Linked DNA regions of Homo sapiens. The protein of the gene in region 3 interacts with the protein of the main gene of each other region in a pairwise test. Each region holds a gene or a part of one and is shown on either strand. Other genes may lie near its edges. The genes, in order: HSFX2, FUNDC2, SDR16C5 and HSFX1.

The links.
Region 1: the proteins of SDR16C5 (region 3) and HSFX2 interact in binary tests that used the Homo sapiens proteins (3 or more experiments, as listed by UniProt).
Region 2: the proteins of SDR16C5 (region 3) and FUNDC2 interact in binary tests that used the Homo sapiens proteins (3 or more experiments, as listed by UniProt).
Region 4: the proteins of SDR16C5 (region 3) and HSFX1 interact in binary tests that used the Homo sapiens proteins (3 or more experiments, as listed by UniProt).

What each region holds. Positions count from the first base shown.
Region 1 is NC_000023.11:149,590,609-149,599,340, reverse strand, and holds HSFX2 (heat shock transcription factor, X-linked), read left to right. Parts: upstream 1-4,026; 5' UTR 4,027-4,640; coding exon 4,641-5,204; intron 5,205-6,041; coding exon 6,042-6,749; 3' UTR 6,750-6,829; downstream 6,830-8,732. Other genes in the region: TMEM185A (transmembrane protein 185A), read left to right, coding at 1,086-1,330.
Region 2 is NC_000023.11:155,057,844-155,062,587, forward strand, and holds the end of FUNDC2 (FUN14 domain-containing protein 2), read left to right. Parts: 3' UTR 1-2,461; downstream 2,462-4,744. Other genes in the region: CMC4 (cx9C motif-containing protein 4), read right to left, coding at 4,000-4,148. UniProt on the Homo sapiens protein: Binds directly and specifically 1,2-Diacyl-sn-glycero-3-phospho-(1'-myo-inositol-3',4',5'-bisphosphate) (PIP3) leading to the recruitment of PIP3 to mitochondria and may play a role in the regulation of the platelet activation via AKT/GSK3B/cGMP signaling pathways.
Region 3 is NC_000008.11:56,316,051-56,324,858, forward strand, and holds the start of SDR16C5 (epidermal retinol dehydrogenase 2), read right to left. Parts: upstream 4,126-8,808; 5' UTR 4,009-4,125; intron 312-4,008; 5' UTR 298-311; coding exon 1-297. UniProt on the Homo sapiens protein: Oxidoreductase with strong preference for NAD. Active in both the oxidative and reductive directions. Oxidizes all-trans-retinol in all-trans-retinaldehyde.
Region 4 is NC_000023.11:149,769,537-149,778,162, reverse strand, and holds HSFX1 (heat shock transcription factor, X-linked), read right to left. Parts: upstream 4,096-8,626; 5' UTR 3,482-4,095; coding exon 2,918-3,481; intron 2,081-2,917; coding exon 1,373-2,080; 3' UTR 1,296-1,372; downstream 1-1,295.

The DNA.
Region 1 (8,732 bases), on a different chromosome or scaffold from region 3:
CTCGCAGTGCACGCTGCCATTTGAGGTAGAACCAGACACGGCAGGCAACCTCTCAGAGATCCCGTTCCCTCCTCTGCAAAATGGGGATCAAGACAGATTCTTCCCAGGCCCGGGAGGGTTTGATGGAAAATCCACATCTCCCACCCAAACCTGGGATTCATCCTAGGTCCCTGTTGGCCGCTCTGCCTCCCCCATATCCTTGCTGCCATCACCCGAGTCTTGCCTGTCTTGCCTTGCTAACACTCTATTCCCCTCCACCTGCTTGCTGAGGCAGACACTTCCAAAACGATCTCTGCAGAGGGTGCCTTCCTGGCAAGGCTGTGGGCTCCATGGCACGGAAGCCCAGAGCATTGCCCTTCGGAAAGCCAGTGGGTTTGGGGGCAGGGCCTCACTGCAGCCCAGCAGCCCGGGCTGTGCTTGCTGTTTGTGCCTCTGCCCCCTACCCCGCACCCGGGAGCAGGGAGGGCTTGCACCGAGCTGACACTCCAGTAGCCTACAGAGAGGAGTAGTGGGACTGGGAAAGTGGCTTTAAGGTGGCTCCATGAGTTCAGGCCCCCTCCTGGCCAACCCGTGCATGACTACCGCCCTCACGGATTCCAGAGGGTGACAGAAATCTTGTTCTTGGGTGGCACTGTCATCCATGAGTTTATCCTGGCTGGAGAAGATTAGCGGAAGACACCGTAGTCTGCGCACCACAGATATTTTGAGACTCACTGGAGCAGTAGTTCTCAAACTTGGGCATCCAGCAGAATCCCAAAAGGGCCAGGAAAAGGGGACCGCTGGAGCCCACCCTAGCCCGACTCAGTTTCTGGAGGTCTGGGCTGGGGCCCGAGAATGGCATCCCTAACTAGGCCCCGTGGACGCTGTCCCTGCCGGTCCGGGAACCCCACTCCAAGCACCACAGAGCTAGCATTTGCACTTCTTCCCCATTTTGGGTACTCAAGCCCTGTTCAGGCTTTGTGACTCAGGAGTCTGGATAAAGTATGTTATGACATTGTAGGAGTGAAACTTCTTGTTACGGAAAGAAAGTTAACAGGAAGGTCAGTTGAGCCTCGTGTGTGAAATAAAAAATTCTTATTTTTCAGGGTGGTTTGGTATCCGCAAAGATTTCTGTCAGTTTCTGCTTGAAATCTTCCCATTTCTACGAGAATATGGAAACATTTCCTATGATCTCCATCACGAAGATAATGAAGAAACCGAAGAGACCCCAGTTCCGGAGCCCCCTAAAATCGCACCCATGTTTCGAAAGAAGGCCAGGGTGGTCATTACCCAGAGCCCTGGGAAGTATGTGCTCCCACCTCCCAAATTAAATATCGAAATGCCAGATTAGATGCCACTTCCGGGGACAGAGCTTAAGTGGACTGGGACGCACTCTCTCCGCCTTCCTCTGCCCCCTCGTTCACCCCGCAGACCAGAACCAGTACTGGAGCTGGGTCTCCAGGTACGTCCATCTCATGCCTTGTTTGCATCCAGCGCCTATCAGCCACTCACCACGACGGGACGCGGAAGTGGCAGGTGACGGGGGTGTGTGCCAGCAGATGCGGATGCCAGGAAGAGTGTGAGAACAGGGGTGGGATTACCGTCTGTCTGGGAGGGGCTCCAGGTACCCCTCTTCCCCGTCAGACCCACTGGGAGATGGCTGCTTGCCAGGCCCCCAGAAGGAACATCTGTCTATACGGTGCTGAAATCCCAATCAAAAGTATTGTTTAGAAATGTATTTCTCCACAGGGCTGACCTCCTGCAGCTCGCTGAGCACTCCCAGGTCCTCAGCACTCCCAGGTCGTGGCTGGGGCAGTCAGTAGGAACTGTAACTATGTCTCTGATGCACCACGTGTTTAGACACAGCACAGTCCTTTTTTCTGTTCCTACTGTGGAAGTAGTTTCTCTTTGGGCATGCTGACAGCAGTTTTTCATAGCCTCACGGATGAGCCCTTTCTACGGGAGTGACTCCATGCTTGTATACAGAGTATTTATACAAATGTTTTAGCATCTTCATATGCGGTGTTAACCCCTAGTTCTGTACAGCATATTCTGTTCAAGTATTTTTTTACAAGCTTGTGCTGTAGGCACATGCCTTCTGCTGCAGAAGTGGACGCCCGTGGCACACTCCCCCCCCCCCCGTGGGGTGCCACGCCTTCATGGGACATTGCCACTTCTGCCCTGGAACTCGTGCAGGTACGTAGTAGCTGCTACTGCCACAACGGCAACACCAAGCAAGAGATGGTCCATGCTTTTCTGACGTTCTCAGAATAGTGGCTAGCTTCAAACCTGACAAGCGCTGCTTGAAGCCGGAACACTAGAGAATGTTGCTGAGAGCAGAAACGGCCACGCGGGTCACGACTATGCGTGGGAAAGTCTCAAGCTTCCCTCCTGCCAGCAACAAGAAGGCTTTGGAGTAGGCATGATGTTTTCACGTGTGCGTGCCGTTTCTCCAAGCACTGCAGGTTCCACCGTGTGTCAGAGGCTGCAAGTTTAACATCCTCCTGCCTGAAAACAAATAGGTCCTTTGCTGAAAAGAGGGTAAAAAAAGAGCTTTGATCTTCTCAGCCAGGAGAAGAGGGTGGTGTTTTCACGCGGGCAACTGCTCGCCGGCCTACATGGGGTTAATTCAAGTCTGCTGCGAGCACGACTCCGCCCTTGGCACTGGCCTCCAGCAAGCCCTGTTCTCTTTGGGGTACAGGGGAACGGGATGGTTTAGACTTTCCTGCTCAGTGTGTAAAAAATGTAGCTAAAGCCACTATTTTTGCTCTCCTTAAGCTGTTCAATAAACCGGTTCCTCATTTTACACGTGCATGATGTGTATCTTCTTTGCTGGATGGGCCAGGAAACTGGAGTGGTCCTCTCAGCCAGCCTCAGAGGAAAGAAATCTCTAGCTGGCACAGGCAGCCAGTGAGTGAGGCTGGCGGCTGCAGGGGCACAGCCTTTAGAATGAGTCCTTCAGTGCACAGGTCCCAGGGTATACGGGGTAGTGGGAGGAAGGAGGGGACGCCTCGCAGATGCCACTGTTGGCTGGGCTACACCTTGCCACACTTGTTACTGCTTAGGAGGCTTTCTGGAGTGTTCCTTGGGTGCTACGACAATCTGCAGCAGACACTGTCCTTTCACCGCTCCTGGTCCTCGTTTGCTCCCCAGTGATGTCAACAGCTGAGGACTGCTCACGCTGCAACAAAAGGCTCTGCAGTCGCTGTCTAGCTTGCCCTAGTCGTCTCTAGAGTTCTGCCTGAACTGAAACTCAAGTGGGGTTCAGCTCATGACTTGTGGCAATTGACCAGGAAATTCACCAGTTGCTGTGGCTGGAAGGATTTTCAGTCCTGTGGGTTGTAACCAGAGGCCACAGGTGGATTCTGCCTTAGGCTCATGAGATTTCCGACTTGCTGTTGAAGAAAATGCCTTGTGAAGTGACAACAGTAGCTCTGACCCAACTGCCGGTGCCTCGCTAGTTCCTATACGTCCCACTGGATCCTCACAGCCCCGGGAAGCAGGTGCTACTACTCTTATCCCCGGGAGGAGACAGAGGCCGAGAGAGGTTAAGTGACGTGCCCAAGTCACACAGCTCGGCAGCGGCCGGGTTGAGCATCAGCAGTCTGTTTGCAGACCCCTCACTGTCACCCCCTGAGCCAGTGCGCCTTGGGCCCTGCGGTCAGGATGTCTCAAGCGTGGAGGCATCACCGGTTCGTGGCAGTCTCTGGAAGGTCACTGAGCTCTGTGCCCAGAATCGAGTCGGGGGAGTCTGTGCAGAGGTGGCCCTGTGTGTGGGGACAGTGTGTGACACAGACACTGCTTTGGATGGACACCTCTCCCGTGACCTCCTAGCATCCAATCCCAAAGGAACAACTGTTGCAGAGATGGACCGCTGGACACAAACCCACGTGCGTTTCTCTGGAGACACTGGCCAAGGAAAACAAAACATGCTCGAAGGCCAACAGCTGCATGCCCCACCGCGATGTGACCGCAGACACCCGGGGTGTAGAAGGGTCTCTGCCTGGTGGGGGGACACGTGCAGGCCGAGGAGAGGCAGGAAGGAGGCTGCCTCCGACTCCCCACTGGACTGCATGGCGACGGCGTGTGGTGGGGCAGTCAGCTAAGCCATTTGCCTAAGGGGCTGTCGGGCATCTGCGTGCTGGGGACCGACAGTGTGGGTGTGTTAGGAGGATCTGTATGGAGCACATTGCTGCCTCTGGCTAGGACAGGGTGGAAAGGGTGGCGTGGCTACAGCCTGACCCATGGGCACCGTCCTACCCTTTGTTCTGTGCTTCCGAGTGTCAGTCATGTGCTGGGGTCTGTGGGCCCATGACTCAGACGGTGAGCTCTGACCTTCCTGAGCCAGGGCTTTGCTGTAGTTGTGCCTGGCTCAGGAGCTCTAGGACAAGGGGACCGCTCCAGGTCTGCATCTACGGTGTGGCAGGGCCCCTCGGCACTCTTGTGCACTAGTGTCATCTTTCCCATTGAAATGACTGTGAGGACCAGAATGTGCACATGCAGATGGGCAGCTACTTGTCTGCCTTGGCCCTTTATTACACAACTTGCTGGGGGTGGAGATGCCACCCCCCGGCAGTCAGAGCCCCTTTATGATGTCATGGGGCTGGTTACATGACTGCCAAGGGGTGCTGCTGGCCACACTGCACTAGCAAGTTTGCCAGATGGAGGACAAGCGATCATTGAGTATGGCTCGCTGTGAAGAAAGAAATTCGAGGGGACAGGATCATGGCTTGGAAAGGGTGCCTTTCCCTCCCCAGTTGCAGTCAGAGACCTACCTTCACCCAGCAGATCCTTCCCCTGCCTGGGACGACCCGGGGTCCACTGGGAGCCCTAACTTGAGGCTGCTGACAGAAGAAATCGCTTTCCAACCTCTGGCCGAGGAAGCTTCGTTCAGAAGGCCGCACCCTGACGGTGACGTCCCGCCCCAGGGAGAAGATAATCTCCTCTCCCTCCCCTTTCCACAGAAACTGTGGAGACTGGTCAGCAGCAACCAGTTTTCGTCCATCTGGTGGGATGACAGTGGGGCTTGTAGAGTGATCAATCAAAAACTCTTTGAAAAGGAGATTCTCAAAAGGGACGTCGCACACAAAGTGTTTGCCACAACTTCGATAAAGAGCTTCTTCCGCCAGCTAAACTTGTATGGCTTCCGAAAACGGCGTCAATGCACTTTCAGGACCTTCACCCGCATTTTCTCCGCAAAAAGGCTGGTCTCCATCTTGAATAAGGTAATGAACGACAAGCCTCTGGAGGGGTTAAGTCGGTGGGCTCTGGGGCCTGGTCGGGTGGAAGTCCCAGGACTGCCTCCTGGGAAGTGGGCGACCTCAGGCAGGGTGTGGGGCCATCGCTGTGGGCCTGTGTCCCCCTCTGGGTGGAGGTGACATGAACTAAGAGTGAATGTGGGGAGAGGGCTGAGGATGGTGCGGGCCCCTCTCGAGTGTGTAAAATATCACAGGTGCCAAGTAGCCGTATCTGCGTGTCGTCCTCCCCGGGGCCAGCCATGTCATCTGGCGGTTGCTGTGTCCCCCTGACTCCACAGCACATTACCCTGTGAGGTGAGCAGGCCAGGGGAGTCTGGTATTTGTACCACTGTCACCCTAGCTGGTGTCTGGAGAGGTGCTCAAGTGGAAGCACTGAAGGGCGCCTGGCGCAGGAGGTGCAGATGCTCCTGCTGCCCTTGGTAGGTGGGCCCCTGGTGTGGAAGAGCCAGTACCCAGGGCCTCCAACCCAGCCGGGGTGCATTCTGTTGCCAGCTGACACTGCATGGGGGAGGCCCAGAATCTTCTTCCCTCCTGGTCTGCAACTTCAAAGACCCTTTCCGCCGGCCATGGACACCCTAATCTGCCATTTTGAGGCTTTTTCCAAGACGGAAAGGCCCGCCACAACTTGGTAAACCTTGACGATGTGAACGCGAGTCCCCAGCTTCCTTTGGGGACTGGGACCTTTTCCAGAAAGGCCTCCTGGGCCAGTAGAGTTCTCTTGCACAGGGGCGTAGATGGTTGGTAGTTGTAGTCCATCCTTGTGACTTGCAGTTTCCTTTTGTTTATTTAAACTTTGACTTATAGTTAGAGTTCTACTGCCATCCTTACTTTCAAAGAGACTCCCCTCACCTCCTCGTGAGGATGAAGAGAAGAGTGGGTGTCAAGTCTGCACCAAGACATCAGGAGGAGGACAAGCCAGAAGCTGCTGGATCCTGTCTGGCACCAGCAGACACTGAGCAACAAGATCACACGTCTCCGAATGAGAATGACCAGGTCACACCGCAACACCGGGAACCGGCCGGTCCCAACACCCAAATCAGGAGTGGCTCTGCTCCACCAGCAACTCCTGTGATGGTGCCTGATTCCGCCGTGGCGAGTGACAACAGTCCAGTGACCCAGCCGGCCGGCGAGTGGTCAGAGGGCAGCCAGGCTCACGTCACTCCGGTGGCCGCTGTCCCTGGGCCTGCAGCGCTGCCCTTCCTCTATGTCCCTGGATCTCCCACTCAGATGAATTCTTACGGGCCTGTGGTGGCCCTTCCCACAGCGTCCCGTAGTACCCTTGCCATGGACACCACAGGACTTCCTGCACCTGGCATGCTGCCCTTTTGCCATCTCTGGGTACCGGTGACCCTAGTGGCTGCTGGGGCTGCACAGCCTGCTGCCTCCATGGTCATGTTCCCCCATCTCCCAGCTCTGCACCACCATTGCCCCCACAGCCACCGCACGTCACAGTACATGCCAGCTAGCGATGGGCCCCAGGCGTACCCAGACTACGCAGACCAGAGCACATAGAGGGCAGCATTTGGGCAGAATATGTGCTGGTCAATAAATGTGTCAGAAAATGAGTAATTTTCTGACTGCACAAAAAAGTCTTCATGGTCTCCATCCTTTTTCTTTCTTTGCAGTCCAGTACCCCCCTCCGACATCTTTGGCTTGCATGATAGAGACTTCAGCCTAACACGCCTCCCTGGAAAAGTGCCCAGGAGATACTCGAGCAGGTGCTGGGTTTTAGGAAGCCCCTCAGACATCCCGCCTCTACTCATTAAAAATTACCTGGAGCTGGCCGGGCGCAGTGGCTCATGCCTGTAATCCCAGCACTTTGGGAGGCCGAGGCGGGTGGATCACGAGCTCGGGAGATCGAGACTGTCCTGACTAACACGGTGAAACCCCGTCTGTACTAAAAATACAAAAAATTAGCCGGGCGTGGCGGCGGGCACCTGTAGTCCCAGCTACTCGGGAGGCTGAGGCAGGAGAATGGCATGAACCCGGGAGGCGGAGCGTGCAGCAAGCCGAGATCGCGCCACTGCACTCCAGCCTGGGCGACAGAGCAGGACTCCGTCTAAAAAAAAAAAAAAAAAAAAAAAAATTACCTGGAGTTGCTCGCTGAGTGCTAATTGTGCTGCTAGCATTGCCGGCCTAGGGTTCACAATGACTCTGTGTTACTGGCCATTCCTTGTCATGGCGGTGCCTTTATATAACAGGATCTTCACTTTACATACAGATGAGATCACGTCTGGCTTTGTCATTGGGTTAAAAAGTGCCCTTGATAGTTGTGGAGGTGACACATACTACCAAGGAGTCCTACGGGTTTGCAGTTTAGAGGGTGCTCATTAGTGTCTGGTGGACAGGATTTATGTTTGGCTTTTATGTCTGTACTGGATCTGGTGGGGTTTTTTACTTCCTTCCTTGATTCCCCCACTATGCCCCCACTTTTTCTTTCTTGTTTCCCTTCCTTCCTACTTTCCTTTCCTCTCCTTTTTTCTCTCTCTCTCTCTTTGCTTCCTTCTTTCCTTCCTTCCTTCCATCTCTCTCTCTCTCTGTGCTTGCTTGCTTCCTTCCTTCCTTCCTTCCTTCCTTCCTTCCTTCCTTCCGTGTCTCTCTCTCTCTCTCTTTCCCTCCCTTCCTTCCTTCTCCTTTCTTTTGGAGTCAAAAATTAATTTAAAAGATGTCATGTCATGTTTTAACTTAGGAAGCAGCCTTTTCTGCTCACTTGGGGTGTTCATCTTAGAACACATGCTATCATCGACGAACTTCTTTGACTGATCAGAGGAAATAGATTCAAGTTCTTACCGTAGACACAACTGGGCACAGACATCAAAAGAGCTCTGAAATCAGGGCGTGCAGAGAGCCCCAACACCCACACACCAGAACCCAGAGGTATCCCTGCCTGTGATTTTTAATTTGACAGTAGGTGGCAGAGTCCTGGGAGACGTGGGAAGAGGCCATAAGAGAATGCAGACATGGGAATGGATTAATCCAGAGTCCAGCCATGGTCTGCAGGTGGATCTCCCTGTCTCGGCCTGCTCACTTACAAATGGGTGCTCATTTACAAATCGGTGTGAATCACATTTCATCATTTGTGAGCTCCTTAGTTTCCAAGAAGTACAGTTTTCTCATGTGTTTCTTGGACTTTATGCATATGCCTCCAGAGTTTGAATCATGCAAAGATGCTGCCACTTAAAAACCTCTTTCCTACAAACTTACACCCCTCCGATCGTGGTTTTCCTGTGAATCTCAGCTGGGCACGATGGCTGACGCCTGTCATCCCAGCACTTTGGGAGACTGAGGCAGGTGGATCACGAGGTCAGGAGTTCAAGACCAGCCTGGCCAAGATGGTGAAATCCTGTCTCTACTAAAAATACAAAAAATAGCCGGGCACGTTGGCAGGCACCTGTAATCCCAGCTACTTGGGAGGCTGAGGCAGGAGAATCGCTTGAACTCAGGGGGCAGAGGTTGCAGTGAGTCGAGATCACGCCACTGCACTCCAGGCTGGGA
Region 2 (4,744 bases), on a different chromosome or scaffold from region 3:
CAGAGACGGATCCAGGGGCACTTTCTGGCCGCTGCCTGCTCGGGCTCAACAGATGGAGTCCAATGTTTCAGTCTCCCCCAAGAATGTGTATCCTCATTGCTGACACGGGAGCTGGGTGCGGGGAGAGATGTGGTGGTGGGGACCCTTGCCTGAGCAGCCCATTGTCATGAGTGTTATTGCCATTGTGATAATATGTTAGCATGACTCTCCTCCCAAATGGCCGCTTGTTTGTTGCAATCTCCCGCCACTCAGCCTCCAGACATTCATTAACAGGACAGTGGGGTTCTTGACTCCCCTACCACTGGGGTGACAGTCCTTGCTACTGGATCTGGGCAGTTACTGTCTCATGGATGCTGGCAGAAGACGATTCAAGTTGGCGGACTAGATTCTACAAGGAATGATCTCTTGCATAATTCTAGCCAACATGCTCTTGGGGTGGGTGCTTCTGGTTTTGGAAAGCAAAGTTACTGTGTAGTTAACAACTATTGTGGTAAGAATAGTCTCTCCATCATTCTTTTGTTTCACGGTTGTCAGAAAGATGGGCATAACTAATGGTTGGGCTCTTATTTGGAACCTCTACTTTTGTACAGTTTGGGAATCTCTGCTTGAAAAGATGGTATACTGATGGATTTGAAATTTCTGAGTATCATCAATGTTTCATGATGATCTCAATTTCTTCTCAGAGGGAAGCTCACAGCCAGTTTTGGACCCCAGAGAAAAATGTGGCTGCTGCCCTCTACTCCCTCTACCAAATTATCAGCTTCATTTCTTTGTCATGAAATCTAGTATGATTTCTCAGAAATCAGGCCCAGAACTAAAATACATTTTCTGCCCAATTTTCTAAGAGGTCACACTAACATCTGAGTAATTGGGCAGAAAACCTATTTTAGTTCTGAGCCTGATTTTTCTAGAAGTCATATGGTATAGCTTATATTTCCGATGCTTGCATTCTTTTTAAGGGGTCATGAATCTTAATACTTTTTTTTTTAAAAGAAAAGTGTCGCACTTTTTCACATTTTTATAAAGCTTTAAAGTCAGTTTACTGACTTTTCAAAAGTGTCTACCTTTTTAAATTTTAAAATGGTAAGAAATGACATTCCTGAGAGCAGTGGCTTTCATCCTTGCTTGCACTTGGGAATCACCTGTGAAATTTTAAAAACTACTAATGCCTGGCTCTCATCCTAGAGATTCTGATTTCACTGGTCTGGAGTGCTGTTCAGGCATCCTGAGGTTTTAAAGTGTCTTAGCTTTTTCTAATGAGCAGCAGAGACTGAGAACCACTGAAGTACACAGTTGGAAGCTGGTGCTGAAAAAATTAAGAGTTTTGCTGTTAACTCCTTAAGAGGGCTTTAAAGCCTTTTATATTAAGTGCCATACAACTTCAGATGCCTTCTGAATACTGAACACAAGTGTAATATTATAGTTCATTAAATGTCTTAGGAATCGTGTGGAGTGAATGCAAGGAAAGGAGTGACAAGATATCACCCCACAAATGACTTACCCATTACGAAGGGAAAACTACCTTTCTAGCTAAAAGGTCTGTCAGTCACTAACCAAGTGATTAAACTTAGCATCACTAATAGCCAACTTAACAAAGTTTTTTTTTTTTTTTGGTTTCTAAAATGGGAGATCATAGTTTTCACCTTCCTAGAGTTCTTTGCTTAAGACTGAGATTCAGTGTTACTCTTGGTCCCTAACAATAAGAAGCACTCAGTAAATGTTAAGCCTTCTATGATGGCTATTTTATTTTTTTGTATGTCATAATAATACCTAAGAATAAGAAGAGTTAAATTAATGTCTTCAAATGGATTTGTTGACTTAAACTGACACAATCCTTTAAAAGAAGGAACTGATTTGAACCTTTCAAAACTGAAAGAAAGTCGTATACTGATACAGTTTGGAGCCACCGAATGTCATGTTGAACCGTATTCCCTAATGGAGGTGGATCCTGGTGAGAGGTGATTGGATCGTGGGGGCCATCCCCTCTTGGTACTTCACTCATGATAGTGAGTTCTCATGAGATCTGGCACTTCACCCCTCACTCTCTCTTGCTCCTGCTTTGGCCATGTGGAGTGCTCACTCCCCTTTTGCTTTCTGCCATGGCTGTAAGTTTCCTGAGGCGTCCCCAGAAGCCCATCAGATACCAGTGCCATGCTTCCTGTACAGCCCATGGAACTGTGAGCCAACTAAACCTCTTTTATTTATAAATTACCGAGTCTCAGGCACTTTTTATAGCAATGCAACAATGGACTAATACATATACTTTAGCATAAAAACATTTAAAAGAGTCTGAAACTGGAGTAGTTAACTCAGTAAAAATAACTTGGCAATAAAACACAGAAAAACAATCTATTTGATCATGTAGTGATTCCTAATGTAAATCCTAGTACAACTGTCAACTGATAATTTTAAATGTAATTTAGATTTGTAGATGGTGTAACATTAAAGTTGTATGATGTTTTATTGTGTTATTATTAACACAAGACGTCATTTAAATTTCATGGGGATTTAGCTCTGTCACTCTGGTTTGTGGACCAAACGTCTCTAAGGCAGCATTTCTTTAAGTCGCTCTGGAGAGCATTCACACACAGAGATGCTGTCTGCAAAACAGGTTCACTTAGGTTTTTTGAAAGCTCTGAAGTCTGACAGGAAATTAACCTGTGTACTTGTATGCAACCTAGCATTCCCCAAACTTACCTGACCAGAGAAGCCTTTTTTTTTTCTTCCGGTTACAGCAATTCCTAGAAACACTTTGAGTAATGCTGCTTTAAAGAAAACAGTTGGTCTCAAATAATCATGGTATTTTAACATCAGGGACCTAGCAGAAATTGTTCCTGCTTTTAGTCATCTTTTTCTTTTTTAGAGGACAGCCTTTGGTGGTTCAAGCATCCATTTGAGGAAAGCAAATGGCCTGTTGCATGCTGCCTCCTCCTACTTCATAAAGTGACTGACAGCTGTCAACAGGCTTCATTCAGCAGCTTTGTATTAATGTTGTCTGGATCCTCTGTAACAGGTTTTTATTATCAGGATATAAAGAATAGATAAACCAACTAAGTTTGAATTATCTTGCTGCCTACCTGACTTCCAATGAAAATTTTTTCTTCAGTTCCTTCATGATAAATTAAGGATCATTAAGCATTACAAGAATCATTTCTATGCCTTTCCTACCTGGTTAGTCGCTGCAGTGGGGATGCAAAAGCAGAAAGAAATGCTCTTACTGGCATCTGGAAAGACACTTTTTGCTCTGCATTTTTGGAAGTACAAAAGGTAATGAGTTAGTTTAAAGGAAACTTTGAATTAGTTTAGCATGTAATCTATAAAAGGTATCAAAATTGGCTCACGCCTGTAATCCCAGCACTTTGGGAGGCCGAGGCGGGCAGATCACGAGGTCAGGAGTTCAAGACCAGCCTGACCAACATGGTGAAACCCCGTCTACTAAGAACACAAAAATTAGCCAGGCGTGGTGGTGCATGCCTATAATCCCAGCTACTTGGGAGGCTGAGGCAGAATTGCTTGAACCCGGCAGGCAGAGGTTGCGGTGGGCCGAGATCGCACCATTGCACTGTAGCCTGGATGACAGAGTGAGACTCCATCTCAAAAAAAAAAAAAAAAAAAAAAAAAAGGGCGTCAAAATTGTGATGCTGGAAGTGAGTCCTTTCACCTAACATACCTCATATGACTTAAATTTGATGAATGGCACTAGTGGCTTGAACTTCAAGAGAATTCATTAATACCCTATATCTAATAGTCTTAAAATACATTTAGTACAAAACCCAAATTTTTCTCTTAAACAGGTTTATTTTAGCAGCTCAGTATATTACATTCTACATATTTGTCTTTTAATGTGTTTATATTTCTGCCTGTTCTGCATAGATGGCATATTCATTAACTTTTGTAGCTGACTTTTTCATTTGCTATTTGCTGCTACCTGGCCTGAAGAGTCAGGAGGATAAAAAAAATTCATTTGGTGGAAACATGGAGCAGCACTTCAGAAGAACTTTACTTTGATGCAGACTTCCGTGTTAGGTTTTCTTCCTCTTCTTTTTCAAATCCTGAACAGACGACAGATCTTCCCTTGGGATACTGAGCACAACACTTACGCAGTTCTTGGATGACAGCCTGACACTTTGATTCCATGTAGCTGTTGGCTGAAAAACATACAGGCAGACTCTAGTCATGATCTCATAGGACTAAGGTACAGGGAGGTTTAGATCAGTGCTTCCCACCCCTTTTCACTTTCAGTACCTATGGAACTGGAAGAAAGAAGATATACCAAAGTCCACTGAATTCTTTCTAATTTAGAGACCTGTCGACAGGTTCGTTAGGGAAAGTATGATTTACAAAGTGGTTGAAAGCTATTTTAATATATAATTTCCTTTAAGGTTAATAGCATGTATGCACCTTTTTCTAGGACATTGGTTTTTAACATCATTTTTATTACTGGTCACTAATTTGATGAATTAGGAAAATGCACATACACCACACATTATTTTGCATACAGTTTAAGCTGATTGTTGGACCTCCCCTACTAAGGCTGTGCATCAGGAATTGGCAAACTGCAGCCTTAGGGTCAAATTCAGCCGGTTTTTACAGCTGGGAGCTAAAAATGGATTTTAATTTTTAAAGGGTTGTAAACACACAACACATACACAATATATACAACAAAGGCCTTTGGCCTCCAAAGCCTAAAATATTACTTGTTTGGCCTTTTTCATAAAACATTTGCAGATCCCTACTATACATA
Region 3 (8,808 bases):
GCAATCGCAGGTATAGGCGTGCACTCTTGTGGCTCCAGCTTCCCGAGCCATCTTACATGTTTCCTCATTCCCCTCCTTATTGATATCCCAGAGAACAAGAACAGATCCCAGCCGGGCAAACTGCAAGGCTAAGAGCCTTCCGAGTCCACTTCCAGCACCTGTGATGAGGACTATTTCACCAGCAACGTTCTTCCGTGGCTTTGGGAGTAAGGCAAAAATCATAGCCTCCAGAAGACTAAACAGTGATTTTCCTAAGAAAATGAACAGTTTCTTTGATGATTGCAGGTTGAAAGACATGTTCTGGCTGACACCTGTGAAGAAAGACAGATTCACATGAAGACTTATTTGTCCATTTCCTCTGAGTTGTTTACTCCACGGAGCTCCTATTTTCTGAAACAGTGAAAGTAACTGAGATATGTGATTTAAACAGCTCTCCTGGTAGCAGACTCTGTATTCAGAAAGTGGGAGGAGGAAGCCACAGGGACTATACTTATTCGGCTTTCTTACTTGGCCCCAGGCTCAGCATGTTATTTGCATGCCTGCTATGTGCAGTACACAACAGAAATGTTTGTTAACCAGGAACTGTAACCACCACACCCAAATTTAACACAAAAGAATAAGTTCATTATTGCTCATAGTTAGCCTTTCTTCATAATAATAATGAATCCTGTTGGCTGATTTTATGTTCAAAGTCTTGACCACATCACAATGTTTATAACATCATTACTACCTCTCTGGCTTTATGTTTCTCTCCTTTGATGTTTGTGCTTTCTCATTTGCATTCTCGTTAATTTTGCATTACTATTTAAAATCTGAGATTTGAGAGGAAAATGTAAAGTCCTATTTGTAGAAAGCATTTGACAGGAAGTAACCAGATGTTCTAGACCTTTTCCGACAGATTTGCAATCAGCACCAGATAGCCCTTCCCTAGGCTCTGAGGTCCCCGCACCAACAGCTCTATATCACTTACCACTCTGTGTGATTAAAGGTCACAGGCGAGGCAGACCTGGACTCCTGCCCTGCACTGCCTCTGCCTACCTGTGAACCCCATGGCGGGGGTTCTCTTGGCCTTACACTGGGCCTTGGTCTCTTCATCTATATTGGTCCCGTGGCATAGGGTGTTTTTGCAGATGAAATGAGAATGTTCCACGTATGACCACAATGCCTGGCTTATAGTCAGTGCTTTACAGATGTTATCACATTTCTCAGATTCATAGTGCTGCCCACCAAGAAGGCATCCACTAGGTCTGCTGAATGAATAAAAGGCCTCCCCTTGACAAACTCATACAGAGCTTAGTGCTTACATCCTGCTACCAGTTACTCACACTTTAGTGTGAATGAATATATAAGGTGTGCTTTACTAACCACTAGCTGAGAAAGAAGGGAAGGTCTTATTTCCTTCAGGATGGGAACAGAAGACATATTTAGCAGACAGCATACTGTGCTGGGGGTGGGAGCCTTCTCTGAATGGGGTGTTTAATTGAGAGGCTCAGACAAAGGCACAGGTGTGAGGAGACAGGAGGGGAGTAATGAAAAAAGAGCAGGTCTTCACAGTTTGGCTGAAGTCAGCCTAGTTGCGGTTAATGAGTAAGGGTGGATAGATTCATCTACAGGAGGACTTGGTATGTGGTCACACCCTTAGGAAATGTCGAGAGTCGATGCAACCCAGGCTGTTGTTCCTGGCTTATTGTACAGATGAGACTGAGGATCGAAGAGAAGATGTATGTGACTTGTTCAGGGTCCCTGTGCTGGTTAGCTGGTGAGGGCCAGATTGGTTCATGTGTTATGTTTATTGAGTATCCACCCTGTGCTGGTTCTATCTGGGCACTGGGGCTGAGGGGATGGGCAGCCTCTCATAATCTCTGTGCAGGTGAGCCAAGTAATCTAGTTGAAGAGACGTATTCAACAAATAAACAGATCGTTATAAGCCATAGTGTTATAAAGAAAAGTGCAGTGTGCTATGGAGAGGATGATCGGAGAGCTGATTCAGATTGGGCTTGGGAGAGGAAGCAACAGATGTCTGCTGGAAAGTGACCCTTTGAGTGGATATCCAAATGATGATGGTGGGAGGTAGGGATATTGAGCAGTAGCTTTCCTGGCAGAGGGACAAAATAGTTTGTTTTAAGGCAGGTTTGACCTGTGTGTCCAGGGCTGTCCAGAGAATAAGAATGTTTGCTCTAAGGAACATGGATGCTCTGGTCAAATGAAGAACGTTTTCATCCATGCTTTGATGAAATAGACCTCAAACTCTCTGTGATCTTTGCTCTGATTTACATTCACAGAGTAACTTTTGAATGATTGATCAGGCCTCTCAGGCACTGCAGAACTTGAAAAGGTGTCCTGAAAGAGGACTCTCATATCAAATACATGGAGCCTGTACCTGTGGATCTGCAAGGATGAGGGTCAGACTGTGCACACAGTAATGGGAAACCCTAGGCGCCCTTCTCAGACAGCAGCCTGGGCGTCGCCAACTTTGGAAAATCCACACCAGGAGTAGTTGGTCAGACCACCACATTCCCTTTTATATCACTATGTGAATTCACATAGAGGGACAGAGGTCTACTTCTCCCATCACAGGGCTCCAGCACCTCAGCAGTGGCCAGAAGTCTCAACATTGACCTGGGTGACATGAACGCTCTTAATGTCAGGACATTCTAGATTTCAGTGTTCCACTGTCTCAATGTTGGCTTGATGCAAGACCTAAAATATGTCCATCTTTTAACCCTGTCTTGGCAGATGCTTACTAGATTTCTAAGAGCTTGTCAGCCTGAGTTACCTCCCTTCCCCAGTTGAAGTTTAGGGTGCCTGCTGGGTACCCACACAGGCAATGAGGTCTAGAGATTAAAGTTTGGGTTGGAATTCCAGATATATCACTGATTTTCCCTGCAACTTTGGTAGAAATGATTTAATCTCTTGTGCCTCAGTTTCCTCCTCTAAAAAGGGAGTTTCTAATAGTGCATAGGAATACTTACCACACAGAGGAGCTGTGAGAATTAAACCAGTTTATATAGGTAAAGTTTTAAGGAGCATTATGTGGTCACTACTAGCTTGTGTGAAACCTTCGAACAAATTAGAAAAAAAAAAAAAAAAAGGCATTGCCCTGCACAAAGTCCTCTGCGGGGTGCAAGGGGTTGGGGAGGGGGTGCAAGAGGAGCTGTTTGGATTTCAACACCTGCCAGCTTACATGTCTCCCCCTCTGCTCCTCAATCCCCATAATAATGTGGCACAGCCATAAAACATGGAGGCCTTTCTAGAACAGTGCCAGGCACAGAATGACAGCAAAATAATTAATGGCTAGAACTTCCACTGGTCCTGTTAAGCATATGAATTAATAATCCCTGGCTATATCAATTAAATATGGTTATAGTATACTTACAAACAAGAGTGAATGTACGGTTCCATTTTACTGCAAAGACTTTCCTAGAATGTTACGGAGCGTATACAATTTAATCTGGCAGAAGTCTTCTAGGTGTCCCTATCTCGCGGCCTACCCAATCCAAACAGGCGCCCTCGGCTTCCCATACCAGTGCGCGGCAGCAAGTCGGCTCTGGTGAGGGCACCCGGACGAAACGGGAGGGCAGACAGACTGACAATCACAGCTTGGGTTGAAAGGGGTGATATGGGGGTTGATATCCACCCGGAAGGTGGATGCACTGAGCAGCAGAGAGCAGGGAACCTGGGCAGAACGGACCGAAGAAGAGGGTCCGGGGAGGCATCCTGCCCTCTGCTCCGGGTGGGGAGGGAGGCTGGCAGCTCACCCCCGGGGGCGAGGGGTCTGCGTTAGCCGTAGCCACGGGAGCCCGGGCTTCTGGGACGCTCAGCCGTGCGCTACCCGGTGCAGCTGCTTTCTCACCAGCTCGCGGGTGGGTCCTGCCGCGGCTCGGCGACCCGCGCCCCCTTGCGAGCGACCCAGCGTGAAACCAGCCCAAAGGGCGGCCTCGCCCGACCCCCGCCAGCGCGACCTCCTCCGGGAGCCAGCACCCAGGACCGACGACCTCGGCAACTTACCCAGGACACTCTCCCTAGCTGTCCGCGGAGAAGCCGGCCTCGTCTGCCCCAGGCACCCGAGTCCCTGGCTCGGAGCTCAGTCAGGTTCAGGTGTTTATCCAGGCGCCGCCCAAGTCCAAGGGCGGGACTGCCGCGGCAGCGCCAGGGGTGGGGCCGGCCGTAGCCCCAGTGCGCGACGTGGGCAGCACTCCCATCTTCTTTTTCTGGACCTGCAGATTTAAGAAGCTGGAAATTCGGTGGTGGAAACTGGATGCGTGCGCCGGATTTCTCTTAGGCTTAACGTTTCAATGCCTAGGCTGTACCCTAGATTATTAGATGGGAATTTCTGGGTTGGTAGGGGCCTAGGCATTAGCTAGAAAAGTTTCCCAGGTATTTGCAAGGCACAACCCCGAGGTTGGGAACCCTGGAATTAGAGAACAGAGCAGTATAGGCGTCCACGGGGGAGGGGCCAGGTCGTGTGTCTGGAGCCTGCAGTGCGGGGAGTTCTCCAGCAGCATCTGACTGCTCCACATGGGATCTTAAGTCAACAGCTTCCTTGCCCCTTGGAGGTAAAGGATGTGGGCGTGGGCTCGGAAGTCCCCGGGAAGTGGGTGGGGTGCAGGCAGGGGCAGGAGTGGGTGCGGCGCTGGCAGGCGGCCTAGGAGAAGAGGGCGAGGAAATTTGTTCTAACAAGATGAAGCCGAGAAATGAGGCTAGCGTAAGAGTCACCAGGCACTCTGACCCAATCAAGATATATTAAGCATCTGGGTGTACAGCGATCCAGAAGATAACAGCGATGATATATCTGTCAAGAAAAAAAAAAAGGAAAAACATTCATTAATAAATCAATAAAAGAGTTAATATAAGCACAAGACACCACTGAGATGCTAATAATAGAGGGTGAACTTTTCTGGGGGCAATGAGGGGCAGAAATGACAATAAATTATGGGATGTTGAAAGAAAAACAGGGGAGTCATGATGAGATTGGGTTTGAAATTTATCCCGGGGCTGAGTAGGACAGGAAAAGTGGTGAGGGGTCGAAGAGCAGCCTTAGCCAGCCCATATCTGGGACAGGTCTGGAGTAGAGGAACTGCACATTTGTTCTTTATTTGGGTGACAGAAGAAACAGGCAGGTCGTATAAGCTTGGAAAAGTAGGTGCAGGGGAAACCCTCGACTGTCTTTTCAGTACTTAAGAGGTTACTTGTGTGCTTTAGGCAGCAGCAGCGAGCTGTGGCAAGCTATGCGAGGCGTGTGGGAAGGTGAGTGGGTAAATGTGCGTGCATTGGTTTCAAGTCAGCCGTCACCACACAGCGACACTGCTGTGTGGGGCTCTGGGGAGTTGCAGGGCTTCTGAGGGAGAAGGGAGACACATTCATAAACAGTGCGGGTGATAGACATGCACCCCAGGTGCTTCCAGAGTCCACAACCAGCCTGCAGGAGGAGAGGCAGTTGGACTCAAAGGGCCTTCCAGAATGGGCTAAGGTGTGGAGGTGAGCAGCACCTGGGAGTGAGAGTGGACTGAGGCAGAGAGACGTCGGGTAATGGGCCCTTGATGGTGCAGCCTGCCTGCAAGAGTTCAGATGAGTGGACACTGGGAAACACCAGCCTCCTATTATCTTCATGGCTTCTCTGAGCAGAATCCTAGGCTGTCACTCTTCTTTCTGGTCAGAAGCCCTGGGTGGACCTCAAGAAAGAAATTTGGAGCATTATTAGAAATCTCATCAGTACAAAAGATGAGAGTGAGTAGTGGGGGATGCACCGGTGACGCAGTGAAAGAAGCCAGAGGCCCTGCTGGTTGGAAAGGGTCCTGCTTTGACTTGATGTGGGGGAAACTCAGAGGACTGACCATAATCCTGAAAGCTGGGAAAGGATTTCTAAAGGGTCTCTTTTGGCAAAGGCTAGGAATGGACAGTTTATGATAGAACATGTGTCATGGGCTAATAAACATGAAAAAGTGGTTTAATCTTATTCTCAATTTCTTTGATCTTAGGGCCAAAGAGATGCATATGAAAACATTTCTTACCTTACAAATTGAAAGTTTTTTTTTTTTTTTAAAAGAATGCCTTCATATGGGGGTATAAATTATACATTTCTGGAAAACAAATATGTTTCAGGAATTAGAAAGGGATATATCCTCTGACCCAATTCCACCTTTATCTTTACCAAATACCCAGGTATTGTCTGTGGCCTTTCAGGAAGGGAAACTGGGTCACTGAGAGTCAGGGATGGGAAAGAGACTTTCCACTCCACTGAATCATGTGAAGTAGTACCTTTTTAGGAAACAAGTATATTAATCAAAATAAATTGATCTTTAATTCCTAAGAAGTATGTGCCGATGGAGTACTCTACAGCCATCTTTATAAAATCATGTTTTTCAAGGGTATGAAGTACACTTCACAGAATATGAGTTTAAAAAACACAGTACAAGACTAAATATATTTGCTATGATTCTAATTTCTATGAAAATTTTATGTACATGCATTAGAAACACTGGAAGAGAGTTCATCAACATCTTAACACTTTTTGTAATATAGTAGTGGAATGTTGGTTGAATTTATTTCTTTGTATCTTTTTGTATTTTCCAAATTTTCCATTATGTGTATATCTTTATCTCATAATAAAAATGTTTCTGTGGCCACACATACACAGATGCTTCCATTCCAGATAGCACAGTGAGCATACGCATTCATATCCTATTTTCTTCCAAAATTCCATTGAAATAAAAGAGAAAATATAAAAATGCAAATAAACACATTAGTGCTAGAAAAAAGAAAGGAGCTACCAGTGAGGGTTGACTTCATTAAGCAGATGGATCCTATTTCCAGAAACCAGAGCAAAAGATACTTTAAGCTATGACACACGGAAGGTACTGCAAAAATGAGTCATTCTTCCCAACAGAAAGCCTGAGTAACCACAATTCAGTAAACAAACGCAGAGTGTAAATAGGACACGGGACACTCAGATGGAATAAGAGTGTTAATATAAAAAACAACACTCTGAAGGTATTGAAATACAATATTGAAAAATTGTTTTGAAATTTGGGACTAGGCAAGGAAATATCATAAGCAAAGTAAGATGATAAACAACAGACTAGGAGAAAATAGTTTTGCATAAAGAGTTGACCATTGATAATTTGTCATAATATATAGCATTTCTATAAACTGATTGAAATAAGACAGTGGGAAAAATTGATAAAGAAATTTATAGGCAAATAAATATAAATTACTGAAAATGCCTAAAAAGATGCGAAATTTCACTCATATTCAGGAAAAGGAAATTGGAAAAGGAATAACCTTTTTTTCATTCATTAATATCCACATATTAAAAAGTCAGATAAGAATTTAGGATTGGGGCTGTGCATGGTGGCTCATGCCTGTAATCCCAACACTTTGGGAGGCCAAGGCAGGTGGATCACCTGAAGTCAGGAGTTCAAGACCAGCCTGGCTAACATGGTGAAAACCCGTCTCTACTAAAAAATACCAAAATTAGCCAGGGGTGGTGGTGGGCGCTTGTAATCCCAGCTACTCACTAGTCTGAGGCAGGGAGAATTGCTTGAACCCGGGAGGTGGAGGTTGCAGTGAGCAGAGATCGCGCCATTGTACTCTAGCCTGGGTAACAGAGCAAGACTCCATCTTGGGAAAAAAGAAAAAAAAAAAGAATTCAGGATTGGCAAGGGTGTGGGAACACAGACATTCTCAAACAATGTGGGGATATTTGTCTTTGAGTCTTTTATGGACAGTAATTGGGCAGTAGCTATCATAACTTTTGACTGCTATTTCACATTTAGGAATCTATCACATAAGAATATTGACACTTCCAGCACTCTGGGAGGCCGAAGTGGGTGGATAATGAGGTCAGGAGATCGAGACCATCCTGGCTAACATGGTGAAACTCCATCTCTACTAAAAATACAAAAAATTAGCTGGGTGTGGTGGCACGCACCTGTAGTCTCAGCTACTCAAGAGGCTGAGGCAGGAGAATCGCTTGAACCTGGTAGGCAGAGGTTGCATTGAGCCGAGATCACGCACTCCAGCCTGGGTGACAGAGTGAGACTCTGTCTCAAAAAAAAAAAAAAAAAAAAAAATTGACCCATGTTTATTGAAGATTGTGATAGTAAAAAATGAGAAGCTACTTGAATGCACAGCTATTCCATTAATCACGATATAGTCATGTAATAGAATTCTCTGAAGCTGAAAAAAAGGATGAAGTTAGAAATATATTTAGTGGCAGGGAGAAATCTCCAGGCTGTGGTCAGTGAAAAAAAAGTACAGAATTATTCCACTGAAATTAAATTGATGATTACTGTGCATTGTGCATGCACATGTGTGTTCACATGTGTGTAAAACAGATGGAAATGCACAGAAGAATGGATCTGGAAGGCTACACACCAAACCGTTGGCAGTAGTTACCTCGGGAGGGGCACAGAATTGAGTAAGGGGCAAGGAGAGTCGCCTCCATTATGATATATATTTCTGTATTGTTTGACTTTTTATAAATGGCGTGCAATATTTTGTTATATTAAAAACAGAAAAAGATGAAAAAAATGCCTACTTTTAAAAGACTCGTTTAAAGAACATGTTGTCTTTGGGGATTACTTGGTAAAACAGTAGAGTAAGTACAGTCAGCAGATGATACTTTCACAAATATATATGTTTAACCAAAATGCATTATTTGGCAGAAGGAGATTGTGAAATCCTCAGAGAAGTACATGATTAGTGTAAAGGTAGACTTATTTGTTCAATGACAGGAAGAGAGCAGTGTTAGGCTGGAACAGAAGTAGTAAACGAACATGTGAAAGAGTAGGATGAATAATACATACT
Region 4 (8,626 bases), on a different chromosome or scaffold from region 3:
TCTGGGTTCTGGTGTGTGGGTGTTGGGGCTCTCTGCACGCCCTGATTTCAGAGCTCTTTTGATGTCTGTGCCCAGTTGTGTCTACGGTAAGAACTTGAATCTATTTCCTCTGATCAGTCAAAGAAGTTCGTCGATGATAGCATGTGTTCTAAGATGAACACCCCAAGTGAGCAGAAAAGGCTGCTTCCTAAGTTAAAACATGACATGACATCTTTTAAATTAATTTTTGACTCCAAAAGAAAGGAGAAGGAAGGAAGGGAGGGAAAGAGAGAGAGAGAGAGACACGGAAGGAAGGAAGGAAGGAAGGAAGGAAGGAAGGAAGGAAGGAAGGAAGGAAGCAAGCAAGCACAGAGAGAGAGAGAGATGGAAGGAAGGAAGGAAAGAAGGAAGCAAAGAGAGAGAGAGAGAAAAAAGGAGAGGAAAGGAAAGTAGGAAGGAAGGGAAACAAGAAAGAAAAAGTGGGGGCATAGTGGGGGAATCAAGGAAGGAAGTAAAAAACCCCACCAGATCCAGTACAGACATAAAAGCCAAACATAAATCCTGTCCACCAGACACTAATGAGCACCCTCTAAACTGCAAACCCGTAGGACTCCTTGGTAGTATGTGTCACCTCCACAACTATCAAGGGCACTTTTTAACCCAATGACAAAGCCAGACGTGATCTCATCTGTATGTAAAGTGAAGATCCTGTTATATAAAGGCACCGCCATGACAAGGAATGGCCAGTAACACAGAGTCATTGTGAACCCTAGGCCGGCAATGCTAGCAGCACAATTAGCACTCAGCGAGCAACTCCAGGTAATTTTTTTTTTTTTTTTTTTTTAGACGGAGTCCTGCTCTGTCGCCCAGGCTGGAGTGCAGTGGCGCGATCTCGGCTTGCTGCACGCTCCGCCTCCCGGGTTCATGCCATTCTCCTGCCTCAGCCTCCCGAGTAGCTGGGACTACAGGTGCCCGCCGCCACGCCCGGCTAATTTTTTGTATTTTTAGTACAGACGGGGTTTCACCGTGTTAGTCAGGACAGTCTCGATCTCCCGAGCTCGTGATCCACCCGCCTCGGCCTCCCAAAGTGCTGGGATTACAGGCATGAGCCACTGCGCCCGGCCAGCTCCAGGTAATTTTTAATGAGTAGAGGCGGGATGTCTGAGGGGCTTCCTAAAACCCAGCACCTGCTCGAGTATCTCCTGGGCACTTTTCCAGGGAGGCGTGTTAGGCTGAAGTCTCTATCATGCAAGCCAAAGATGTCGGAGGGGGGTACTGGACTGCAAAGAAAGAAAAAGGATGGAGACCATGAAGACTTTTTTGTGCAGTCAGAAAATTACTCATTTTCTGACACATTTATTGACCAGCACATATTCTGCCCAAATGCTGCCCTCTATGTGCTCTGGTCTGCGTAGTCTGGGTACGCCTGGGGCCCATCGCTAGCTGGCATGTACTGTGACGTGCGGTGGCTGTGGGGGCAATGGTGGTGCAGAGCTGGGAGATGGGGGAACATGACCATGGAGGCAGCAGGCTGTGCAGCCCCAGCAGCCACTAGGGTCACCGGTACCCAGAGATGGCAAAAGGGCAGCATGCCAGGTGCAGGAAGTCCTGTGGTGTCCATGGCAAGGGTACTACGGGACGCTGTGGGAAGGGCCACCACAGGCCCGTAAGAATTCATCTGAGTGGGAGATCCAGGGACATAGAGGAAGGGCAGCGCTGCAGGCCCAGGGACAGCGGCCACCGGAGTGACGTGAGCCTGGCTGCCCTCTGACCACTCGCCGGCCGGCTGGGTCACTGGACTGTTGTCACTCGCCACGGCGGAATCAGGCACCATCACAGGAGTTGCTGGTGGAGCAGAGCCACTCCTGATTTGGGTGTTGGGACCGGCCGGTTCCCGGTGTTGCGGTGTGACCTGGTCATTCTCATTCGGAGACGTGTGATCTTGTTGCTCAGTGTCTGCTGGTGCCAGACAGGATCCAGCAGCTTCTGGCTTGTCCTCCTCCTGATGTCTTGGTGCAGACTTGACACCCACTCTTCTCTTCATCCTCACGAGGAGGTGAGGGGAGTCTCTTTGAAAGTAAGGATGGCAGTAGAACTCTAACTATAAGTCAAAGTTTAAATAAACAAAAGGAAACTGCAAGTCACAAGGATGGACTACAACTACCAACCATCTACGCCCCTGTGCAAGAGAACTCTACTGGCCCAGGAGGCCTTTCTGGAAAAGGTCCCAGTCCCCAAAGGAAGCTGGGGACTCGCGTTCACATCGTCAAGGTTTACCAAGTTGTGGCGGGCCTTTCCGTCTTGGAAAAAGCCTCAAAATGGCAGATTAGGGTGTCCATGGCCGGCGGAAAGGGTCTTTGAAGTTGCAGACCAGGAGGGAAGAAGATTCTGGGCCTCCCCCATGCAGTGTCAGCTGGCAACAGAATGCACCCCGGCTGGGTTGGAGGCCCTGGGTACTGGCTCTTCCACACCAGGGGCCCACCTACCAAGGGCAGCAGGAGCATCTGCACCTCCTGCGCCAGGCGCCCTTCAGTGCTTCCACTTGAGCACCTCTCCAGACACCAGCTAGGGTGACAGTGGTACAAATACCAGACTCCCCTGGCCTGCTCACCTCACAGGGTAATGTGCTGTGGAGTCAGGGGGACACAGCAACCGCCAGATGACATGGCTGGCCCCGGGGAGGACGACACGCAGATACGGCTACTTGGCACCTGTGATATTTTACACACTCGAGAGGGGCCCGCACCATCCTCAGCCCTCTCCCCACATTCACTCTTAGTTCATGTCACCTCCACCCAGAGGGGGACACAGGCCCACAGCGATGGCCCCACACCCTGCCTGAGGTCGCCCACTTCCCAGGAGGCAGTCCTGGGACTTCCACCCGACCAGGCCCCAGAGCCCACCGACTTAACCCCTCCAGAGGCTTGTCGTTCATTACCTTATTCAAGATGGAGACCAGCCTTTTTGCGGAGAAAATGCGGGTGAAGGTCCTGAAAGTGCATTGACGCCGTTTTCGGAAGCCATACAAGTTTAGCTGGCGGAAGAAGCTCTTTATCGAAGTTGTGGCAAACACTTTGTGTGCGACGTCCCTTTTGAGAATCTCCTTTTCAAAGAGTTTTTGATTGATCACTCTACAAGCCCCACTGTCATCCCACCAGATGGACGAAAACTGGTTGCTGCTGACCAGTCTCCACAGTTTCTGTGGAAAGGGGAGGGAGAGGAGATTATCTTCTCCCTGGGGCGGGACGTCACCGTCAGGGTGCGGCCTTCTGAACGAAGCTTCCTCGGCCAGAGGTTGGAAAGCGATTTCTTCTGTCAGCAGCCTCAAGTTAGGGCTCCCAGTGGACCCCGGGTCGTCCCAGGCAGGGGAAGGATCTGCTGGGTGAAGGTAGGTCTCTGACTGCAACTGGGGAGGGAAAGGCACCCTTTCCAAGCCATGATCCTGTCCTCTCGAATTTCTTTCTTCACAGCGAGCCATACTCAATGATCGCTTGTCCTCCATCTGGCAAACTTGCTAGTGCAGTGTGGCCAGCAGCACCCCTTGGCAGTCATGTAACCAGCCCCATGACATCATAAAGGGGCTCTGACTGCCGGGGGGTGGCATCTCCACCCCCAGCAAGTTGTGTAATAAAGGGCCAAGGCAGACAAGTAGCTGCCCATCTGCATGTGCACATTCTGGTCCTCACAGTCATTTCAATGGGAAAGATGACACTAGTGCACAAGAGTGCCGAGGGGCCCTGCCACACCGTAGATGCAGACCTGGAGCGGTCCCCTTGTCCTAGAGCTCCTGAGCCAGGCACAACTACAGCAAAGCCCTGGCTCAGGAAGGTCAGAGCTCACCGTCTGAGTCATGGGCCCACAGACCCCAGCACATGACTGACACTCGGAAGCACAGAACAAAGGGTAGGACGGTGCCCATGGGTCAGGCTGTAGCCACGCCACCCTTTCCACCCTGTCCTAGCCAGAGGCAGCAATGTGCTCCATACAGATCCTCCTAACACACCCACACTGTCGGTCCCCAGCACGCAGATGCCCGACAGCCCCTTAGGCAAATGGCTTAGCTGACTGCCCCACCACACGCCGTCGCCATGCAGTCCAGTGGGGAGTCGGAGGCAGCCTCCTTCCTGCCTCTCCTCGGCCTGCACGTGTCCCCCCACCAGGCAGAGACCCTTCTACACCCCGGGTGTCTGCGGTCACATCGCGGTGGGGCATGCAGCTGTTGGCCTTCGAGCATGTTTTGTTTTCCTTGGCCAGTGTCTCCAGAGAAACGCACGTGGGTTTGTGTCCAGCGGTCCATCTCTGCAACAGTTGTTCCTTTGGGATTGGATGCTAGGAGGTCACGGGAGAGGTGTCCATCCAAAGCAGTGTCTGTGTCACACACTGTCCCCACACACAGGGCCACCTCTGCACAGACTCCCCCGACTCGATTCTGGGCACAGAGCTCAGTGACCTTCCAGAGACTGCCACGAACCGGTGATGCCTCCACGCTTGAGACATCCTGACCGCAGGGCCCAAGGCGCACTGGCTCAGGGGGTGACAGTGAGGGGTCTGCAAACAGACTGCTGATGCTCAACCCGGCCGCTGCCGAGCTGTGTGACTTGGGCACGTCACTTAACCTCTCTCGGCCTCTGTCTCCTCCCGGGGATAAGAGTAGTAGCACCTGCTTCCCGGGGCTGTGAGGATCCAGTGGGACGTATAGGAACTAGCGAGGCACCGGCAGTTGGGTCAGAGCTACTGTTGTCACTTCACAAGGCATTTTCTTCAACAGCAAGTCGGAAATCTCATGAGCCTAAGGCAGAATCCACCTGTGGCCTCTGGTTACAACCCACAGGACTGAAAATCCTTCCAGCCACAGCAACTGGTGAATTTCCTGGTCAATTGCCACAAGTCATGAGCTGAACCCCACTTGAGTTTCAGTTCAGGCAGAACTCTAGAGACGACTAGGGCAAGCTAGACAGCGACTGCAGAGCCTTTTGTTGCAGCGTGAGCAGTCCTCAGCTGTTGACATCACTGGGGAGCAAACGAGGACCAGGAGCGGTGAAAGGACAGTGTCTGCTGCAGATTGTCGTAGCACCCAAGGAACACTCCAGAAAGCCTCCTAAGCAGTAACAAGTGTGGCAAGGTGTAGCCCAGCCAACAGTGGCATCTGCGAGGCGTCCCCTCCTTCCTCCCACTACCCCGTATACCCTGGGACCTGTGCACTGAAGGACTCATTCTAAAGGCTGTGCCCCTGCAGCCGCCAGCCTCACTCACTGGCTGCCTGTGCCAGCTAGAGATTTCTTTCCTCTGAGGCTGGCTGAGAGGACCACTCCAGTTTCCTGGCCCATCCAGCAAAGAAGATACACATCATGCACGTGTAAAATGAGGAACCGGTTTATTGAACAGCTTAAGGAGAGCAAAAATAGTGGCTTTAGCTACATTTTTTACACACTGAGCAGGAAAGTCTAAACCATCCCGTTCCCCTGTACCCCAAAGAGAACAGGGCTTGCTGGAGGCCAGTGCCAAGGGCGGAGTCGTGCTCGCAGCAGACTTGAATTAACCCCATGTAGGCCGGCGAGCAGTTGCCCGCGTGAAAACACCACCCTCTTCTCCTGGCTGAGACGATCAAAGCTCTTTTTTTACCCTCTTTTCAGCAAAGGACCTATTTGTTTTCAGGCAGGAGGATGTTAAACTTGCAGCCTCTGACACACGGTGGAACCTGCAGTGCTTGGAGAAACGGCACGCACACGTGAAAACATCATGCCTACTCCAAAGCCTTCTTGTTGCTGGCAGGAGGGAAGCTTGAGACTTTCCCACGCATAGTCGTGACCCGCGTGGCCGTTTCTGCTCTCAGCAACATTCTCTAGTGTTCCGGCTTCAAGCAGCGCTTGTCAGGTTTGAAGCTAGCCACTATTCTGAGAACGTCAGAAAAGCATGGACCATCTCTTGCTTGGTGTTGCCGTTCTGGCAGTAGCAGCTACTACGTACCTGCACGAGTTCCAGGGCAGAAGTGGCAATGTCCCATGAAGGCGTGGCACCCCACGGGGGGGGGGGGGGGAGTGTGCCACGGGCGTCCACTTCTGCAGCAGAAGGCATGTGCCTACAGCACAAGCTTGTAAAAAAATACTTGAACAGAATATGCTGTACAGAACTAGGGGTTAACACCGCATATGAAGATGCTAAAACATTTGTATAAATACTCTGTATACAAGCATGGAGTCACTCCCGTAGAAAGGGCTCATCCGTGAGGCTATGAAAAACTGCTGTCAGCATGCCCAAAGAGAAACTACTTCCACAGTAGGAACAGAAAAAAGGACTGTGCTGTGTCTAAACACGTGGTGCATCAGAGACATAGTTACAGTTCCTACTGACTGCCCCAGCCACGACCTGGGAGTGCTGAGGACCTGGGAGTGCTCAGCGAGCTGCAGGAGGTCAGCCCTGTGGAGAAATACATTTCTAAACAATACTTTTGATTGGGATTTCAGCACCGTATAGACAGATGTTCCTTCTGGGGGCCTGGCAAGCAGCCATCTCCCAGTGGGTCTGACGGGGAAGAGGGGTACCTGGAGCCCCTCCCAGACAGACGGTAATCCCACCCCTGTTCTCACACTCTTCCTGGCATCCGCATCTGCTGGCACACACCCCCGTCACCTGCCACTTCCGCGTCCCGTCGTGGTGAGTGGCTGATAGGCGCTGGATGCAAACAAGGCATGAGATGGACGTACCTGGAGACCCAGCTCCAGTACTGGTTCTGGTCTGCGGGGTGAACGAGGGGGCAGAGGAAGGCGGAGAGAGTGCGTCCCAGTCCACTTAAGCTCTGTCCCCGGAAGTGGCATCTAATCTGGCATTTCGATATTTAATTTGGGAGGTGGGAGCACATACTTCCCAGGGCTCTGGGCAATGACCACCCTGGCCTTCTTTCGAAACATGGGTGCGATTTTAGGGGGCTCCGGAACTGGGGTCTCTTCGGTTTCTTCATTATCTTCGTGATGGAGATCATAGGAAATGTTTCCATATTCTCGTAGAAATGGGAAGATTTCAAGCAGAAACTGACAGAAATCTTTGCGGATACCAAACCACCCTGAAAAATAAGAATTTTTTATTTCACACACGAGGCTCAACTGACCTTCCTGTTAACTTTCTTTCCGTAACAAGAAGTTTCACTCCTACAATGTCATAACATACTTTATCCAGACTCCTGAGTCACAAAGCCTGAACAGGGCTTGAGTACCCAAAATGGGGAAGAAGTGCAAATGCTAGCTCTGTGGTGCTTGGAGTGGGGTTCCCGGACCGGCAGGGACAGCGTCCACGGGGCCTAGTTAGGGATGCCATTCTCGGGCCCCAGCCCAGACCTCCAGAAACTGAGTCGGGCTAGGGTGGGCTCCAGCGGTCCCCTTTTCCTGGCCCTTTTGGGATTCTGCTGGATGCCCAAGTTTGAGAACTACTGCTCCAGTGAGTCTCAAAATATCTGTGGTGCGCAGACTACGGTGTCTTCCGCTAATCTTCTCCAGCCAGGATAAACTCATGGATGACAGTGCCACCCAAGAACAAGATTTCTGTCACCCTCTGGAATCCGTGAGGGCGGTAGTCATGCACGGGTCCTGGCCAGGAGGGGGCCTGAACTCATGGAGCCACCTTAAAGCCACTTTCCCAGTCCCACTACTCCTCTCTGTAGGCTACTGGAGTGTCAGCTCGGTGCAAGCCCTCCCTGCTCCCGGGTGCGGGGTAGGGGGCAGAGGCACAAACAGCAAGCACAGCCCGGGCTGCTGGGCTGCAGTGAGGCCCTGCCCCCAAACCCACTGGCTTTCCGAAGGGCAATGCTCTGGGCTTCCGTGCCATGGAGCCCACAGCCTTGCCAGGAAGGCACCCTCTGCAGAGATCGTTTTGGAAGTGTCTGCCTCAGCAAGCAGGTGGAGGGGAATAGAGTGTTAGCAAGGCAAGACAGGCAAGACTCGGGTGATGGCAGCAAGGATATGGGGGAGGCAGAGAGGCCAACAGGGACCTAGGATGAATCCCAGGTTTGGGTGGGAGATGTGGATTTTCCATCAAACCCTCCCGGGCCTGGGAAGAATCTGTCTTGATCCCCATTTTGCAGAGGAGGGAACGGGATCTCTGAGAGGTTGCCTGCCGTGTCTGGTTCTACCTCAAATGGCAGCGTGCACTGCGAGAAAAGTCCCGGTGCAGGCCAGCAGAACACCAGAGTTACGGCATGCCCTTCCCTTAGAAGGTCCCAGAATTTCCTCAGCCCTCACTTTCCCACACAAGCTTCTAAATTGGGGCCCTCGGGGACTCATCCCTTCCTAGACTTCTATCCGCCCCCCCCCCACTCCCTGGTCCCCCCCCAGACACACACCAAGGACTTCTGAAATGCTGAGTACATACAGTGGTTTCCTCCCTTCTGTCCAAATGTGGTTGCCATCAGCGTGATCAACGAGAGCCAAAGGGGGACAAAGATCGGGATGCTGGAGAAGGCGTTGTGGCCATCCAGTTTGTGAACCAGCAGAATCTAAAGAAAGAGACATAGTCCCGGTTGATGCCAGCACCGAAAATGGGCAGAGGCGGAAGCCAGACTTCATTAGGCAGTTCCTCCCCACCACCCCACCCCCGCGTGAGCTCCCACAAGAGGGAACATCAGCACCGCCAGAAAAAGGCAGGAAACCACCTATCC